Regions from separate parts of the Homo sapiens genome. Here region 1 is linked to region 2. The links come from fine-mapping of genetic effects on gene expression. A gene starts in region 2. The other region holds a variant in brackets. All regions are shown on one strand. Distances are between the middles of the regions.

Region 1 (2,500 bases), 25 kb before region 2:
GGGATGTGATGTGAGAGAGATATACAGCAGCTTCAAGTGCACACATAGTGTTCTCTTTGTGAAGCTAGGTGGTGAATATATTGCATCTGTATGCCTCCTTACAGATTTGAAATATTTTATAATCAACATTTTTAAAGAAACAAACCAGCACATTGCAAAAATAGAAACAAAAATAGAACAAAATTTTAAAACCCCAAATAAAAACCAAAAAAGGGTTGATATGCTTGAATAAGATAGCAAGAAGGGCACAAAGGTGGAAAATAGGTATCTACCAGCCTAGCCTTGTATATTTATCTCGTTAGTAAATACTGGAGTCAATGTCTCTGCCCTTACTCCATTTGCTCCACTCATGGAAGCTAGCCCACCCCAGGGCCCACCAGCCCAGCCACATTAGCCCACTTGCCAGCAGTTACTGGAAAGAACAGAAAGCTCACTACTCAAAGGAATGGTCACTGGCCAGAGGCAAAACCTCTAGCTGCCAGAGTGAGTGCTCACAGCATATGAATGCCCAGACTGCTTCACAAAATCAATCCAATCATTCTCCTTTGGTCTCAGAAAGGATCCTGGCAACCAGTACTCCTAAAGTGATTAAAGCTTTCCTAGGCTATTTAAAAACATTTCAAGGGGACAAAATTACGATGTGCAAATCCCACGCTTCAGGTATGCAGACAAGAGAGAGGAAGAAGAGAATTTCCAGAGTGTCAGATGCCTCTGATATGACAGCATCCTGCAGTGAACATCTCTCTTCCTTGTGGAGAGCATCCAAATATCTGGACGAGCTGCTTTTGGGAATGACATTCAGGGTAAGTAAGTAAGCTCTGCCCTCCACTCAGTGCATCATGGAGAGGCTACCAACACCCAGTCCTCTCACCACCCAGACAGCTTCACTGTAAGTACACATTTACTTTAGTTAGCTTGAAATTTCCAACAAATTTTTTCATAAAAAGAGGGTGTTCAAAGGAAATGGAATTATCATATTCTTCTCTTGAGTTCAATGTCACCATGAACTATTAGGATAGTTGGTACTTTTTGATTAATATTTTTATTATGGTAAAAAAGTTTATTCTTTTAATTTAAAAGTGTACAGTATAGTAGTGCTAACAATATACACTTTGTTGTACAACAGATCTCTAGAACTTTTTCATCTTGCATGATGGAAATTCTACACCCATTGAACAACTCCCCATTTTCCCCTCCCACAGCCCCCAGCAACCACTATTCTAGTTTCTGATTCTATGAATTTGACTACTTTAGATACCTCATAAAAATGCAAACACTCAGTATTTGTGTTCTTGTGATTGGCTTATTTCACTTAGCATAATGCATTTAAGGTTCATCTGTGTTGTAGTATATGACAGGACTTCCTTTTTAAGGCTGAATGATATTGCATTGTATATGCAATGTTGAAGACAGACACACACACACACACACACACACACACACACACCATTTTCTTTAACCATTCATGTGTCAATGGATATTTAGGTTGCTTTCA[C/T]ATCTTGGCTATTGGGAATAATGCTGCAATAAACACAGTATACAGTGTCAAATTCATTGACAGGTTCTTGGAAGCTGCAACTATAGGCAAAGTGATATACACAGGTCCAGAATAACACTGTTTCATAATAATATTGATAAGAAAAAAATGGCTTATGTCGTTTTGCCTAAAGTTGCAGTTTCCAAGAACTATCAATGACATTAAATGAGGTCTTAATGTATCTCTCTGAGATCCTGTATTCAATTCTTTTGCACAAATACACAGAATTTGGACTGCTGGATTATACAGTTCTCTACTTAATTTTTTGAGGAAACTGCCTATTGTTTTCCACAGCAGCTGCACCATTTCAAGCCCACTGATGGTATGCAAGGGTCCCACTTTCTCCACATCCTTGTTAATGTTTGTTTCCATTTTTAAAAATAATAGCCATCCGAAGCATTGTGAGGTGATATCTCATGGTTTTGGTTTACAGTTCTCTGATTAGTGATGTTGTGCATCTTTTCATATTTTTTTGCCATTTGTATATTTTCTTTGGAGAAATGTCTATGCAGGTCTTTTGCCCATTTTTAAATTGGGTCATTTTGTTATTGACCCAACTTAATTTGCAGGAGTTATTGCAGGAGTTCTCTATATATTCCAGATATTGATCCCTTATCCAATATATGGTTTGCAAATATTTTCTCATATTCTGTAGGTTAGCTTTTCACTCTGTTGACTATTTCCTTTACTATGACTTTTTAATTAATTTTTGCTTATTAAAATGCCTTTTAATTTAAATCCTTCATAGTGTAAGTTCTTATAGTATGTGTTATTTATAGTTATAGTTAACAAAAATTGCTGAGCAAATTGCCCCTTCTACCTAGATTTCCAGGCTATTCCCAGATCATGATACCATACGGCAGTGTTCCTCAAGGTATTGTTTAACAGCCACTTGCATTGAAATCTTCCGGGGATACTAATATACAGAATCCTAGACCCCACTCCTTTCCTAGTGAAATAGCATCT
Region 2 (2,500 bases):
ATTTGAGATTTTCCGAAGAGACTTCACTGAAACGTATGGACAAAAACATGTTTGCGATGAGTCATATTTTATAGGACCTTAATGGCCAATAAATGCCTTATGTGTCTTTCTTCCTACATTCAGTATCACTCCCAAGCAAGCTGGTGACATATTTTCCAGGCCTTGATAATTTTTATACCGTTACCAGATCTCGGTTACTAAGATTCATGAACAAAACCCTTTCTTGCGCTAATTTTTTAATGCCATCTAAATGAAGAGAACGCGATTCTTTCCAAACTAACTCTCCCCAACCAGGCAGTTAATGCCCTTCGCCAGAATAAGGGCGCGATACTTTTAAGACCCCAAAGAGAAGCTCAGGTGCTTTGGGGGTACTACAAGTAAAAAGACAGTGGGAAAGGTTCCTGGAGAGCCGCTTTGGGGGAAAGGCAGACATAACAACAGGATATGTTCGTTTCTAGAGGAAGCAGGAGCTGCAATAGCCCCGGAGCAGGAAAGGCGGAGTCAGCAGCGCCCAAAGGAAACGGGCGCGCCAGGGTTTGCTGGAACCGGGGTTGCTTAGGGGTTCTCGCCCCGTCTAGTCCGAGACTGCTGAGCACCTCGCCCCCGGGGGACCAAGCTCAGGCCTCCTGGCACTAGTGGTTATAAAGAGGTACCCATATGCTCTCTGCCGCCCCTGCCAAAAAAAGGGCCACGGAGGGGAAGAGAAAAAGCACACACCAGGCGCCGCGGCAGGTGAACTTGTCAACAAGTCAACCCTGGACGCAAGTCCCTGCCCACCAGGGAGCTCGGGGTCCTGGGGCCGGAGCCGCCGGGAAGGCGAGGCGCGCGGTGGGTGGGTGGGGTGGGCTGGCATGGGTGCCGGTGCTCCCAGCGCTGGGGCCGGAGCGCGGAACGCTTCCCTACCGCTCCCCCGGGGCTGACGCACGCTCTCACGGCGCGCGCATCCTCCAGACCTTCCCAGGCCGGAGGGAGGAGGGGAGGGGAAGGGGCTGATGCGGTTCCCGCACCGGGATCCGGGACCCGAGGAGGCGACTCGCCTATCACGCGCCGCCCGCGGAGGGCAGAGAAGGCAGCTCCTACCAGGCGTCCCCGACCGTCCCGGCTGCCGGGCGTCTCCTGCTGCTTCCTGCAGCCCGCCCGGCGCGCCCCCGCCCCGACCCCGGAGGGCAGGTACCTCGGAGCCCCGGCCCCCAGGAGCCTCCCGGCCGCGGTCGGAGCGTCCCTCCGGATCACTCATCCGACGTCAGCGTCAGCCGAAGGCGAGGGAAAGGGGCGGGGGGAGCGCAGGAACCGGCCCTTCCTGCGGCGGCCGCCACCAGCCGGAATAGCAACCGGCGGAGCCCGTGCGCACCGCAGCGCAGCGCAGCGGCCGGGGGGTGCGGGCGCCCTCGCCGCCCGGCTACCTACCGCCGCCTGGGCGCCGCCGCTGCCTCCCTTCCCCGCTTCTACCCTCCAGCAGACGCCCGCCGGAGCGACCCCTCCCAGGGTGACCGGGGGAAGGTGGGTGGCGTTGACCTCACCTTGCTTGGGGAGGGTCGGGGACTCGGGGAGTGAGTTTCTCTCTCTCTACTCCCCGGGGTCTCTCCTCGACCCCCATCTCCTGGGGTATCCCCCGCTCGGATCCGCCGCCCAGAGTGACCCCGCCCCTGCTCTCCGGCAGGTGTTCCACGTGGCCATAGCGTTTGCGTCACAATGACCTGGCGGACAGGTGGGAGCCACAGCGTACACCCCAGGGTTCCCTCTGTGCTGTGCGTAGTGCCTACTGCTTGCTTCCAGGTTAAATTTCTGTAGCTTTAGAGGACAGGAGACTTCATGACTTCACTGCCAAGAAAAGTTACAGAGGCCTGCTGTACCTGGAAATCAAGTTTGAGCTTCGAGAATAAAGGTCATGTTTTAAAAACAGCTGTGTATGTATAGGTATATGTTTTTCATTTCCATATATTTCTGTATCTTTTATTTTTAAGTTATTGCCATTTGTAGCAGTTTCATCTTCTCTTATCCTTTGTCACCAGGAAAGAACCAAACCATTGTTTCTAGAGACCCTGCAGTATACAGATCACAGGAAGAAAAAGTGTTGGCATAGCTGCTTCCTAATATTATCTATGTGGAAATGAAACCTCAATGTAGTATGACTTCATCCCTAGTTATGTTATACATTTATAAATAAGTTCATTCAGTCGTCGCTGAAACAATTTAAAAGGGCCGAATGATAGTTATTGAGTAATGATGCTGACGAATCAGAAATCCTGCGCTAACATGGATGGAGTGCTAGCTCTATGTCCGGCACATGCTGTATGCTTTATATTTAATCCTTACAGCAACCCAATACTGTAGATAAAATCATTATCCCGATTTCACAGATGAAGACACTGCCCAGAGTGCCATAAAGAGATTATTGAGCAGGGATTTGAATCTGAACCAGGAGACTTAGCTTAATCTCAAGATAGCATGGTGTCTTGCCAGAATGGATGGAGAAAAAGTATAGAATATGTTGACATTT

The links. PIP is the estimated chance that this variant, and not a neighbour inherited with it, causes the effect. A credible set is the group of variants that fine-mapping cannot tell apart.
Region 1: its variant is the best candidate, but not a certain one, in a credible set for the expression of ICA1 in whole blood (INTERVAL, PIP 0.60).

What each region holds. Positions count from the first base shown.
Region 1 is chr7:8,236,407-8,238,906 of GRCh38, forward strand. All of the region lies in intron 1 of ICA1 (islet cell autoantigen 1), which reads right to left. Among named protein-coding and RNA genes, the nearest start is that of ICA1, 25 kb to the right of the region's middle. The variant C/T (reference allele first, on the strand shown) is at 1,496.
Region 2 is chr7:8,260,920-8,263,419 of GRCh38, forward strand. It overlaps ICA1 (islet cell autoantigen 1), which reads right to left and starts at 1,248. Exons shown (of 14, transcript NM_001136020.3): 1 at 1,175-1,248. ICA1-AS1 (ICA1 antisense RNA 1) reads left to right here and starts at 1,306. Exons shown (of 6, transcript NR_125740.1): 1 at 1,306-1,500; 2 at 1,661-1,907.